Regions from separate parts of the Homo sapiens genome. Here all the other regions are reported to be linked to region 3. Evidence: microRNA targets listed by miRTarBase, many of them from high-throughput screens and not tested one by one. Region 3 holds a microRNA gene; each other region holds the end of a gene's coding sequence.
Evidence for each region. The annotated mature microRNA hsa-miR-521 reads AACGCACUUCCCUUUAGAGUGU and lies in region 3 at 1,804-1,825, opposite strand. An mRNA with a match to its seed (bases 2 to 7 or 8) in the 3' UTR can be bound and repressed. Matches are read on the target gene's strand: a 7mer-m8 pairs with bases 2 to 8, a 7mer-A1 pairs with bases 2 to 7 and ends in A, and an 8mer does both.

Region 1 (3,000 bases), not on the chromosome of region 3:
CACACTTGGTTAATTTTTGTATTTTTTATTTAGAGACGAGGTTTTGCCATGTTGCCCAGGCTGGTCTTGAACTCCTGAGCTCAAGTGATCTGCCTGTCTCAGCTCACAAAGTGTTAGGATTACAACCACCGTGCCCGGCCAATAGCTTTTTCAAACTAGCTTTTTCAAAGGTCAAATGCATCCTCACCAAGGGGACAAGATTGAAAGTAGAATGGCCTGGGCTTAATAAATCAATGATTTGAAACTATCAGAAGAAAACATGGAGAAAATGCTCCATGACATTGGTCTGGGCAATGATTTTTTTGGATACGATCTCAAAAGCACAGTAACAAAAGCACAAGTACAGAAATGAAATTACATGAAACTAAAAAGCTTCTGCACAGCAAAGGAAACAATTAATAGGGTGAAGAGACAACCTACAGAATGGAGAAAAAATATTAACTATAGATCTGATAGGGGGTTAATATCCAAAATACATAAGGAACTCAATAGCAGGAAAACAACCCATTTAAAAATGGGCAAAGAACCTGAAAAGACAGTTCTCAAAAGAAGACATGCAAATGGCCAGCAGATATATGAAAAAATTATCAACATCAGCAGTCACCAGGGAAATGCAAATTAAAACAACGAGATACCACCTAACACCTGTTAGAATGGCTACTATCAATAACACAAAAGATAACAAGTGTTGGCAAGGATGTGAAGAAAAAGGATTTCTTGCATTATTGTGAAGAAAAAGGAATTCTTGCATATTCTTGGTAGGAATGTAAATTAGTACAGCCATTATGGAAGACAGTATGGAGTTTCTGCAAAAAGTTAAAAATAGAACTACATATGATCCAGCAATCCTAATACTGGGCTTATATCCAAAGGATATGAAATCAGTATGTCAAAGAGATATCTGCACTACCAGGTTCACTGCAGCATTATTCACAATAGCCAGGATATGGTATCAACCTAAGCATCTGTCAATGGTTGAATGGATAAAGAAAATGTAGTACATATACACAAACAGCTGATCTCATAGAAGTAGAGAGTAGAATGGTGGTTACCAGGAGCTAGGGTTGTTGGAGAAACATTGGTCAAAGGATACAAAATTTCAGTTAAAAAGGGGGAATTAGTGCAAGAGACCTATTGCACAACATAGTAACTATAGTTACAATTACAAGATTACTATTAATTTTGAAAAATAAGAGAATGGATGTAAAGTGTTCTTACCACAAAATGGTAACCATGTGAGGCATATGTCAGTTAGCTAGATTTAGTCATTCTATAATGTATATATGCTTCAAAACAGTATGTTGTACATGGTAAATACATACAATTTTATCTGCCAATTGGAAAAAAAAATCAATTGTAAAAGCAAGTGTTTGGAAAACATTTAGCTGGAAAGGTCTGATAGGAGGTCTAACCCTTATACACTTAAAAACTCAACAACTGGCTGGGTGCAGTGGCTCAAGCTTATAATTCCAGCACTTTGAGAGGCCGAGGCGGGTGGATCATTTGAGGTCAGCAGTTCGCAACCAGCCTGGCCAACATGGTGAAACCCCATCTCTACTGAAAATACAAAAAAATTAACCGGGCGCAGTGGCGGGAGCCTGTAATCCCAGCTACTCAGGAGGCTTAGGCAGGAGAATTGCTTGAACCTGGGAGGTGAAGGTTGCAGTGAGCTGAGATCAAAACACTGCACTCCGGCCTGAGCGACAGAGTGAAACTCCATCTCAGGAAAAAAACAAAAAAACAAAAAACCCTCAACAACTGTTTACTTTTGGTATTCAAGCTCATAAAAGCCTCATTTACTAGTCTACTGCTGGTAAGGATCAGGAAGGGAAAATTAAGATTACCTTCATGATAATCACGTGTGGGTTGACACAGACGGAGACAATAACATAGAAATTTTATTACAGCATTTCATGTTTAAGCCAGATTCCCTGCCAGGATATTTTCTGCTTGAATTAATGAGGCAGGATTTGGTCATACCTTAATGAGTTTCACAGAAAAAGAGTTCAAGCATTAGCGCAAACTGCCTTCTGACATTAAAATAAAATAAAGCAAACATGGGATTTTCACAAAGTTAAAAGCCTCCTGTGATGCACATTTTGGATAGTAGGAGACATTGAGCCCCAAAATGTTTAACATAAAGCATGGTTAATTAAATGAAACCACTGAAAAATGTGAATACATGAAGAAGAAAGAATAAAATAATTTTGATGTTACCATTTCAACTACTATTTTTGATATAATCATTCTTGGCAAAATCATTCTTAAAGGTGGAAACGAGCAGGCTGATAGTACAGCAAGTAAGAGAAAGTCAATACTGATGGCCTCCACTTGCTGATCCTCTGAGACTGCATCTTATAGTTCATAAAATCTGCTGAAGGTCACAACTGAGGTACAACGACTTGTGTTACTTGTACTGTAGCAATGAGGGCTTTCCCAGGCCACAACATCTGGGATCAAGGAACACATTTTGACTAAATAAACTATACAGAAGTCTGTTTTAGGATTTTATGCAAATATTAACCTCATTTTAAAACATGAGGAAAAATATTACCCACATTTAGGGCTAATTTAGCTGTCAGGAATAGACCATACAGTTGAAAAAAACACAGTCTCATTTAAAAAGTTTCAGCAGAGACAAAAAGGTACTAAAGATGATATTCATCCTTCTTCATCACTGCTGCTCCAGGCATCTTCAAAGGCCGGATTTAATTGTGATTTTGTTGTAGTCTAAAAAAAAAAAAGATAAAGAAAAAGGAAGATTCTGTTTTTTCTACTTCATAATTTTAGGCTCACAATAAAGTTATGAAATATATCAGATAAATAGCAATTACATTATTTTGGAAGAAAATGTATAACTGTTAATTTCAGAACAAAAATAAGAAACAACCCATATACAATATAAGATAATGTAACTTCATTTGAAACAGACAACACCAGACTTTATCCAAACACCCTGTTTCCTTTAATCACTTCACAAATACATACATACACACATAC
Region 2 (3,000 bases), not on the chromosome of region 3:
ACTTCCGAAGGAAGAGGAAGAGGAGAGCTGAAGCCAGCGCGGCCGTGCGCTCGGGAGCCAGGAGCGTGGGAGGGGCCGAGGCGCCAGCGCTGGAGCCCCCGAGCGCGGCTTGCCTGGACCTGCAGGCCTCGCCCTCTCCATCCGCACCCGAGGCCGCCACCTGCTTCTCCGGTTTCGCTTCTGCTATGAGCGCTCTGGCTGGCGGCCTTGGCACCTTCCCCGGGGGCCTGGCGGGCGACTTTTCTTTCGGGAGGCGGCCACCGACAGTCGCCACCCACGCTCCCCAGACCCTTAACCCCTCCCCTGGCTTCGCCCCTGGCCACCAGACCGCGGCCGCCGGCTTCCGCCTCAGTCACCTCCTCTACAGCCGGGAAGGGACCGAAGTTTGAAGGGAGGCTGGAGGCTAGCCGGGTGCGGGTCCAGAGGTGCTGAGCTCAGGCCTCCGGTTTCCCCTGGTGACAGCCCCACGTGTTGGCGTTGAAGGCCTTGGTGCCCTGGGAGGAAGCGCAGAGCCGGGGGCGGCTCGGCCAGCAGGGAGCTGGGCTGAGCGGCTCTTGGGCTTTGGGGTGGGTGGCCCTTCTGCTGTGCACCCCTCACCCAGGCGACCTTCGGAACCTCCCTGCTCTGCCTCTAAGTCCAGCCGCCCTGGGCGTCTAGAACCTGTGCTCTCGAGGGATTTGCCTTGAAGGGGCGGCGGGTCGGCCCTCAGCTCCAGCGTTTTCCAAGGAGGCTGGCTGACTCCAAAGAGCCTTAGAGCAGATGGGAAGAAGGTGGGCTGCCAGAGCGGCCCAGGTGGTGGGGGCCCTTTCCACCTCCACCCAGCTTGGCCCACCTGGCTCAGGGCCTTCCCTTCTGCTTCAGGGAAGCTGCCGCAGGGGCTGGGGGACAGAGCTCAGGAGCAGCTGCAGTGGGCTCCAGGTGGGCCAGGAGCCTGCAGTGAGGGGATCTGAGACAGTTGGCATTGGGTCCTGTGTAAGGAAGGTCTTGCTAATGGTTGGAACTGCTGGTGGTGGGAGGGAGAAGCACTGCGTGGGCAGAAAGCGCCCTTGGGATACCAGCTCCCTTCCCTGTCACTCAGCCCTGGTCCTTGATGACCCCCCTCTAGGACAAGGCAACTCCCCAGGGCCCCGCCACCACTGACCACAGGAGCGGTGCCCAGCACCCAGGAGTTCCCCAAGGGTCCAGGTTTGTGCCACCCACACCCACACTCACACCCACACTCACACCCACACTCACACCCACACCCACACCCACACCCACACTCACACTCACACTCACACCCACACTCACACCCACACTCACACCCACACCCACACCCACACTCACACACACTCACACCCACACCCACACTCACACCCACACACACTCACACCCACACACACCCACACTCATACTCACACTCACACCCACACTCACACCACACCCACACTCACACTGACACCCACACTCACACCCACACTCACACTGACACCCACACTCACACCCACACTCATACTCACACTCACACCCACACTCACACTCACACCCACACTCACACCACACTCACACCCACACACACCCACACTCATACTCACACCCACACCCACACTCATACTCACACACCCACACCCACACCCACACCCACACCCACACCCACACCCACACTCACACAGGCTCATGGAAGGCCACACTTGTTTTGGTCTCTTTCCCCTCCAAACCCACAGTTTGAGCCAAAGCTGTGCGTGTGTTCAGAGCTCCTGAACAGCAGCCTCCTGTGTAAATTGAACCCTGCCCCACCCAGTTCCTTCTTAGGGATGGTATCTTTGTGAAGGACAAGGAGCCCCCAGTCACTGGGAAGAGGAATTTTTTGGCCTCTGTACTCCTTAGAGGACCTAAGTGCCCCAGTCAGATGCCCTGAGTCTTTGTGGCATCTGGGACTCCCTGGAGATGGAGACGTTGGTGGGGGGGGGGTACCCACCTTGTTGTTGATGGGGGTACCTATCTTCCCTGCATTTTGGGGGAGGGTGGGAGGGGTCCTTCCCAGGAAGAGAGTGGAGACAGGTTACTGTTACTTTGGAGTGGGACAGGCTGGTTTAGCAATCCTAAGCCCCAGCCACGCAGGTATTCCTGATCTGCCTGCAGGGCCCCTCACTGCAGCTGCCACCAGTGCTGGAAATGAGAGCAGGGCTCCTGACTGTCCCTAGAGCTGACTCATCATGGCCCTGCTGAAGAGTGAGGTGTGTGTGTGTGTGTGCGTGTGTGCGTAAGACAGAGAGGGAGGGAGAAGGAAGGAGGCGGGGGAACATGGAGAGAAGGAGCCAGGAGTTGGGATAAACCTGGCCCTGGTCATATGTTTCATCAGCAGTGGCTCCTAACTCCACGTGCCATCTCTGCTGCTGCCCTCCACAAGCAGGTGAGCAGAGTGCCAGTTGTGTTGAAGGTGATGATGTCGCCTAACTAAACTCACAACCAACCCGCAATCTCTCTTGGGGGGACACTCCCCATAAGCAATACAATTAAAGAAGACCAGGAAAGGAAAATAAATTCCTTAGCTTATACATTTAAAAAGTATCCCTTGAACCTATTTTAATAGAATGAAATGCTAAAAATAAAGACCAATATAACATACATAGCTGGCATGTGTATGCTATTTCGTATAAGAATTCCACTGCTATGACAAACATCCCCATTTTAGAGTCTGAACTTGCAGGAAACTTGGAAAGATCTTTTCCTAATTAAATTTGACAACAGTTGGAAAATGCAATGGACAATTGGACAATCAGTGGAGCTTTGAGAAAATTGGCTGACACGTGTGGATGTAAACATGGAATGTCATGGCTGCATGACTGCTAGATGTTGGGAAGCTGCTTTTTTTTTTTCTCTAACAATGGTATTTATGTTAAAATTGAGAAAAAAATATTTAAGATTTTTCAACTTTTGGTTTGTTGCCCAAAGATCGTTTTTTACCGTTTGAAAGTTGCTCATTTATTCAAAGCTTTATACCATTAGTAGGTAATAGTA
Region 3 (4,649 bases):
CACCACTACACTCCAGCCTGGATGACAGAGCCAGACCTTGTCTCAAAAATAACCAACCAAACAAAACACACACACACACACACACACACACACACACACACACACACACACAAATACCCAAAGTGATATAAGACTATTCTCTGTGCATAGAAGAGTATTTTGTGTGTATGTGATATTACATATATAAAAATATATCATGGCCGGGCATGGTGGCTCACATCTGTAATCCCAGCACTTTGGGAGGCTGAGGTGGATGGATCATCTGAGGTCAGGAGTTCGAGACCAGCCTGACCAACATGGAGAAACCCCATCTCTACTCTAAATACAAAAAATTAGCTAGGCTTGGTGGCACATGCAAGCAATCCCAGCTACTTGGGAGGCTGAGGCAGGAGAATCGCTTGAACCCAGGAGGCAGAGGTTGCCGTGAGCTGAGATCGTGACATTGCACTCCAGCCTGGGCAACAAGAGTGAAACTGTGTCTCAAAAAACAAACAAACAGAAAAAACAAAAAAGAAAGCTCCATATATTGTATTCTCACAGGAAGTATAATTCCTACGCATATGTGCTTGCTTTGGCAATACGCATAAAAAAATTGAAATAACAAAGATTACCATGACCCCTGCACAAAGGTGACACTCAAATTCATAATGGTACCATATTTATCTATTTAATTCTTTTTACTTTTATTTTGTTTATTTATTTACTTATTTTTGATACAGAGTCTCGCACTGTCGCCCAGGCTGGAGTGCAATGGCCCGATCTCGGCTCACTGCAACCTCCGCTTCCTGGGTTCACACGATTCTCCTGCCTCAGCCTCCCAAGTAGCTGGGACTACAGGTGCCAGCCACCATGCCCAGCTACTTTTTTGTATTTTTAGTAGAGATGGGGTTTCGCCATGTTGGCCAGGCTGGTCTCGAACTCCTGACCTTGTGATTTACCCGCCTTGCCTCCCAAAGTGCTGGGATTACAGACGTGAGCCACCCTGTCTGCCCTACTTATTTATTTTTTGAGACAGAATCTCGCTCTGTCGCCCAGGCTAGAGTGCAATGGTATGATTTCGTCTCACTGCAATCTCCTCTTCCTGGGTTCAAGAGGTTCTTCTGCCACAGCCCCCCAAGCAGCTAAGATTACAGGTGTAATTTTGTATTTTTAGTAGAGTCGAGGTTTTGCCTTGTTGGCCCAGCCAGCCTTTAACTCCTGACCTCAGGTGATCCACCTGTCTCGGCCTCCCAAAGGGCTGGGATTACAGGCATGTGCCACCACGCTCGGCCTATTTTTTATTTTTTTGAGATGGAGTCTCACTCTGTTGCCCAGGCTGGAGTGCAGTGGAACGAACTCAGCTCACTGAAAGCTCAGCCTCCTGTCTCTACTAAAAATACAAAAATTAAGGCCGGGCGCAGTGGTTCACGCCTGTAATCCCAGCACTTTTGGAGGCCAAGGCGGGTGGATCACAAGGTCAGGAGATCAAGACCATCCTGGCTAACACAGTGAAACTCTGTGTCTACTAAAAATACAAAAAATTAGCCAGGCGTGGTGGCGGGCGCCTGTAGTCCCAGCTACTCAAGAGGCAGAAGAATGGCGTGAACCTGGGAGGCGGAGGTTGCAGTGAGCTGAGAACACGCCACTGCACTCCAGCCTGGGCGACAGAGCAAGCCTCCATCTCAAAAGCAAAACAAAACAAACAAACAAAAAACTCAAAACCAAAACAGAACTACACCGTCGTCCAAGTCTGATGATAAGCAGGCTCTGCAAACTTATTACCAAGATCAGCATCAGCTTCAACGTTGCTTTTCTCACACGGTAACACTCTAAAGGGAAGTGCGTTCTTTTCTTTTAGACAACAGAAAGTTCTTCCCTTTGGAGGGTCACAGCCTGAGATCTTCTTGCTCCAGGACTCTGGGTTTTTTGGTGAAATTTTCGTTTACCAGGTTAAAATGGACAGAAAAATAAAGATGCATTCATTGTCCCTGTTTGCATGTTTTCTGGAATCCAGAATATAAACCCCTAAAAAAACCATCTCCAGTTCCTTGCTTCAAAGGCTCAGCAGGTTAGCCTTGTTCATGCAGGGGCAACCCTCCTGAGTTTTGTCTCCAGAAAGAAAAATCAATGCCGACTAGACATACCTTATATTTCACCAAGAGAATAGGGCAGGATTTCTAGAGAACAGCAATGGATTTTGAGCCAAGTGTTCACTCGAGTTCCAGCACAGGGACACACAGTCCCGATGGGAGCATCCAAAATGGAATCTAAAATGTTGAAAATGTACATTGTTATATACACAAACATCCTCCAGGATAGACCACAGACTAGGATGTAAAAGCTCCTCAATACAATTTGAGCAGAAACAAACAAGTACGGGTGTGGCACGGTGGCTCACACCATTAATCACAGCAGTTTAGGAGGCCGAGGTGGGAGGACCACTTGAGCTCAGGGGTTCAAGACCAGCCTGGGCAACATGGTGAAACCTCATCTGTACAAAAAATGCAAAAGTTAGCCAGGTGTGGGGGTGCATGCCTGGAGACAGGTATTCAGGAGGCTGACATGGGAGGTGGAGGTTGCGGTGAGCTGAGATCACACCACTGCACTACAGCCTGGGCAACAGAGTGAGACTGTCTCAACAACAAACAAATAAATCAATTAAAAAAATGCAAAAATTAGCCGGGCGTGGTGGCACATGCCTGTAACCCTGCTCGGGAGGCTGAGGCCAGAGAATTGCTTGAACCCAGGAGACAGAGATTGCAGTGAGCCAAGTTCCTGCCACTGAACTCCAGCCAGGGTAACAGAGTGAGACTCTGTTTCAAAAAGAGGACCACTTGAGCCCAAGAGATCTAGGTTGGATGTGCCACTGCACTCCAGCCTGGGCAACAGAGACACCCTGTCTCAGATAAAAAACAAAACAAAAACAAAACCCCACCATCATCCACGTCTGACCATAAGCATGCTCTGCAAATGTATTACCAAGATCAGCGTCAACTTCAATGCTGCTTTTCTCAAACCGTAACCCTCTGAAAGAAAGCACTTTCTGGGCGGGCGTGGTGGCTCACGCCTGTAATCCCAGCACTTTGGGAGGCCGAGGCGGGTGGATCATGAGGTCAGGAGATCGAGACCATCCTGCCTAACAAGATGAAACCCCGTCTCTACTAAAAATACAAAAAATTAGCCGGGCTTGGTGGCGGGCGCCTGTAGTCCCAGCTACACAGGAGGCTGAGGCAGGAGAATGGCATGAACCCGGGAGGCGGAGCTTGCAGTGAGCCAAGATCACGCCACTGCATTCCAGCCTGGGCGACAGAGCGAGACATTGTCTCAAAAAAAAAAAAAAAAAAAAAAAAGGACTTTCTTTTCTTTAAGACAACAGAAAGTGCTTCTTACCTCTAGATGGCCACAGCCTGAGAGCCTGAGATCTTGCTCCAACACCGTGGATTTTTTGTTGGAATTCTCCTGACCAGGTCAAAATGGGCACCAAAATAAAGATGCATTTATGGGTCCTGTTTGCATGTTTCCTGGAATCCAGAATATAAACCCTTAGAAGGACCATCTCCAGTTCCTTGCTTCAGAGAATCAGCAGGTTAGCCTTGTTTATCATAGCACAATCCTCCTGAGTTTTGTCTCTGGAAAGAAGAAGCAATGCCTACTAGAAATACATTATATTTAACCAAGAGAAACGGGCAGGATTTCTGTGGGTGGCAAGCCACCCAGGTGCCGAGGCAAGAGACCGAAGGCACAAGCTGTTCCGGTATAATAAAGAAACTCACCACAAGCCGTTCCAGTATAACAAAGAAAATATATAGAATAAGACTAGTTATACTAGAAATAGATTATAGATATGATTATATATGAATATTATTAATCATTAGTTTGTAGCATTACTCTTTATTCCAATATTATAATAATCTTTGTTCTACAATCATAACCTAGGGAAAACCAGGCCATACAGAGATAGGAGCTGAAGGGACACGGTGAGAAGCGACCAGAAGACAAGAGCGTGAGCCCTCTGTCATGCCCGGACACGGCCACTAGAGGGCTCCCTGGTCCAGCGGTAACACCAGGGGGAAGGCACCCGTCACTTAGCACAGCGGTAGCGCCAGTGCCTGGGAAGGACCCCCTTACCTTCCCAAACCCGGAGAGGGAGTCTCCCTTTCTCCAGGGGAGTTAGAGAAGACTCTGCTCCACCACCTCTTGTGGAAAGCCTGACATCAGTCAAGCCCGCCCGCAGCCGTCTGGTGGCCTAAACGTCTCCCTGTGATGCTGTGCTTCAGCGGTCACGCTCCTGGTCCACTTTCACGTTCCGCTCTGCACACCTGGCTCCGCCTTCTAGATAACGGTAGCAGAATAAGTGAAAGTATTAAAGTCTTTGATCTCTCCGAGAAATACATAGAAGAAATAATGACGTAAGCTGTCCCCAATCTCTCTCCGCCTAAGCTACCAAATAGGGAAGGGGCCCCCTGTCCGGTGGACACGTGACTCGCGTCATCTTACCTATCATTAGAGAAGACTCACACTTCTTACCCTGCCCTTTTGCCTCGTATACAATAAATAACGGCGCGGCCACGCATTCGGGGCCACTACCGGTCTCCACGTCTTGGTGGTAGTGGTCCCCCAGGCCCAGCTGCCTTTTCTTCTCTCTCTTTGTCTTGTGTCTTTATTTCTAC
Region 4 (3,000 bases), not on the chromosome of region 3:
CCTGGGGCCTAGAGGACTGCAGGCCACCGCCCGGAAGGTGGGCACCCCAGGGGTGAGCAGGCAGAGCTGGGGTGGCTGGAAGGGTGGCCCCTGTGTGGGCGGCCCCTGCATTCACCATCCACGCCCCCAGGCCTCCCGCCGCAGCCGTCAGCCCGCCCGGCATCCTGCCTGCATGCTGCCCCCACACCTCAGGACCACCCGAGACTCCTACCAGTTTGGGGGTTCCCTGTCCAGTCACCTGGAGTTTGTGGGCATCCTGGCCCGACATAGGAACTGGTAAGGCCAGGCCCGGCTGGGGTGGGCTGAGAGGGGCCGCGCAGGCTGACGCCAGCTCCGCTTCCAGGCCCAGTCTCTCCATGCACGTCCTCCCGCGAAGCTCCCGAGGCCTCCTCCTCTTCACTGCCCGTCTGAGGCCCGGCAGCCCCTCCCTGGCGCTCTTCCTGAGCAATGGCCACTTCGTTGCACAGATGGAAGGCCTCGGGACTCGGCTCCGCGCCCAGAGCCGCCAGCGCTCCCGGCCTGGCCGCTGGCACAAGGTGAGGGCCGAGAAGAAGGAAGGTGGTGGGCAGGGCCTGGCAGCCCTACCCTGACCCATCTCCTGCCCCCAGGTCTCCGTGCGCTGGGAGAAGAACCGGATCCTGCTGGTGACGGACGGGGCCCGGGCCTGGAGCCAGGAGGGGCCGCACCGGCAGCACCAGGGGGCAGAGCACCCCCAGCCCCACACCCTCTTTGTGGGCGGCCTCCCGGCCAGCAGCCACAGCTCCAAACTTCCGGTGAGAACCATCTTGCCCCAGCCCCCACTCCCCACCCACTGTTCCCTTTCAGCTGCCCTGGGCCCTGATCCCTGCCCGGTCTGCTCCTATAGGTGACCGTCGGGTTCAGCGGCTGTGTGAAGAGACTGAGGCTGCACGGGAGGCCCCTGGGGGCCCCCACACGGATGGCAGGGGTCACACCCTGCATCTTGGGCCCCCTGGAGGCGGGCCTGTTCTTCCCAGGCAGCGGGGGAGTTATCACTTTAGGTCTGTGGGTGCTGGCATCCCAGGCCTCAGCAGGGCAGGGCAGGGGGCTCCAGGAGGTTCTGGGGAGGGGCCCCCCCTTTCTTCTCCATCACAACCCCTCCCCGCAGACCTCCCAGGAGCTACACTGCCTGATGTGGGCCTGGAACTGGAGGTGCGGCCCCTGGCAGTCACCGGACTGATCTTCCACTTGGGCCAGGCCCGGACGCCCCCCTACTTGCAGTTGCAGGTGACCGAGAAGCAAGTAAGCCTGGCAGAGGTGGCGTGCCAGGGCAGGGTTTGCCTCCCCATTCTGGTGACCTCGGGGGCATAGCCTGACCCTCCCTTCCTACCCCGCCAGGTCCTGCTGCGGGCGGATGACGGAGCAGGGGAGTTCTCCACGTCAGTGACCCGCCCCTCAGTGCTGTGTGATGGCCAGTGGCACCGGCTAGCGGGTGAGGCCCCTCCTGTGGCCAGGGCACTCTGCCACCCCCACCCTTCTGCAGAGCGGGAGCCAGGCGGGACTCTGGGTGGGGTGGCTTCTTTTGGGGCTGGAGAGAGGCTGGGCTGAGGACCACCTGGCCTCAGGAGTCCCCCTTTCTCCCAGTGATGAAAAGCGGGAATGTGCTCCGGCTGGAGGTGGACGCGCAGAGCAACCACACCGTGGGCCCCTTGCTGGCGGCTGCAGCTGGTGCCCCAGCCCCTCTGTACCTCGGGGGCCTGCCTGGTGAGTGCGGCCTTGATCAAGGGTGGGGGAGCTGCCCCTCAGGACTAGGTGCTGCGTAACCTACCACCCTCCCCCCACCCCTCCACCCCCTGCCCCCTCCCACCCTCCTCCCACCCCCCTACCACCCTCCTATGATGTGGAATGAGACAGGGGCTGGGTGGGGCACTGACGTTTGGGAAGGGCCTGTGGGTCTCTAGCTGCCCACCAACCAGCCTTCTTCCATCTTCCCTGTGCCCCCAGAGCCCATGGCCGTGCAGCCCTGGCCCCCCGCCTACTGCGGCTGCATGAGGAGGCTGGCGGTGAACCGGTCCCCCGTCGCCATGACTCGCTCTGTGGAGGTCCACGGGGCAGTGGGGGCCAGTGGCTGCCCAGCCGCCTAGGACACAGCCAACCCCGGCCCCTGGTCAGGCCCCTGCAGCTGCCTCACACCGCCCCTTGTGCTCGCCTCATAGGTGTCTATTTGGACTCTAAGCTCTACGGGTGACAGATCTTGTTTCTGAAGATGGTTTAAGTTATAGCTTCTTAAACGAAAGAATAAAATACTGCAAAATGTTTTTATATTTGGCCCTTCCACCCATTTTTAATTGTGAGAGATTTGTCACCAATCATCACTGGTTCCTCCTTAAAAATTAAAAAGTAACTTCTGTGTAACCGAATGAATGTTGACTTAAATACGGAGAGAGTGAGTCTCAAGACAGATCTGGAACCGGCCTGGACAGAGGCACCAAACTCTTCCTGGGGTGACCGTTTTCCGTTGTTAGGTCAAATAACTAACTGTCTCTGGGACCCTACAGCAGCTCCCCACGCTAGCACCTGTCCAGCCGAAACTCCCTTTGGGCAAAGAAACTAAGCATTGGCAGGTAAAAGAAAAGACTTTATTAATAATCAGTGGGTGGGAGGTGAGGGTGTGCAACGCACTGCAAGCGCCCAGTTCCTCGGAGGACGGCGCGTGGCTCAGTCCAGGCTCATGTCCTCCTCTTCGTCCTTCTTGTCCTTCGTGTCGCCCTCTTTCTGCTCGGGCTTGGCGTTGTTCTGCATGGCTTTGGCAAACGCTTCCACATCTAGAACACGTTAAAGACACAAGGTGGTGTCTAACCCTTGCCCAGAACTGGGGATCAAAGCGATGGGATCAAGGGCAGAAGGGCTGTGACCTTTACCCCCTCAGCCCCACTTCTGCAGATCCAGGGGGACAGGAATGGACCCTGCCCCTGGCTCTGGCCTGGAGGTGCAGGCGCAGCCACTTACCGCCCTTGTTGGCGGCCTCCACAGCCTCTGCAG

Region 1: the mRNA of ERCC8 is a reported target of hsa-miR-521. The part of its 3' UTR that is shown has no 7-base or 8-base seed match.
Region 2: the mRNA of FOXI2 is a reported target of hsa-miR-521. Seed matches in the 3' UTR shown: 7mer-A1 at 2,239-2,245.
Region 4: the mRNA of ADRM1 is a reported target of hsa-miR-521. Seed matches in the 3' UTR shown: 7mer-m8 at 2,635-2,641.

The regions. Positions count from the first base shown.
Region 1 is chr5:60,871,954-60,874,953 of GRCh38, forward strand. ERCC8 (ERCC excision repair 8, CSA ubiquitin ligase complex subunit) reads right to left here. Exons shown (of 12, transcript NM_000082.4): 12 at 1-2,730. The coding sequence ends at 2,662. Among named protein-coding and RNA genes, the nearest start is that of ELOVL7, 29 kb to the left of the region's middle.
Region 2 is chr10:127,738,577-127,741,576 of GRCh38, forward strand. FOXI2 (forkhead box I2) reads left to right here. Exons shown (of 2, transcript NM_207426.3): 2 at 1-2,607. The coding sequence ends at 389. Among named protein-coding and RNA genes, the nearest start is that of FOXI2, 2.9 kb to the left of the region's middle.
Region 3 is chr19:53,745,865-53,750,513 of GRCh38, reverse strand. MIR521-1 (microRNA 521-1) reads right to left here and starts at 1,878; the gene lies at 1,792-1,878. LOC124904765 (a long non-coding RNA gene) reads right to left here. Exons shown (of 6, transcript XR_007067334.1): 3 at 4,108-4,311; 4 at 3,370-3,608; 5 at 2,124-2,246. It also overlaps the pseudogene RNU6-751P. RefSeq lists an enhancer at 2,714-3,312 and a silencer at 4,371-4,583.
Region 4 is chr20:62,308,438-62,311,437 of GRCh38, reverse strand. ADRM1 (ADRM1 26S proteasome ubiquitin receptor) reads right to left here. Exons shown (of 10, transcript NM_007002.4): 9 at 2,968-3,000; 10 at 2,576-2,783. The coding sequence ends at 2,677. It overlaps LAMA5 (laminin subunit alpha 5), which reads left to right. Exons shown (of 80, transcript NM_005560.6): 72 at 1-37; 73 at 131-276; 74 at 344-536; 75 at 609-773; 76 at 866-1,019; 77 at 1,127-1,260; 78 at 1,357-1,450; 79 at 1,603-1,722; 80 at 1,963-2,373. The coding sequence ends at 2,102. Among named protein-coding and RNA genes, the nearest start is that of ADRM1, 6.9 kb to the right of the region's middle.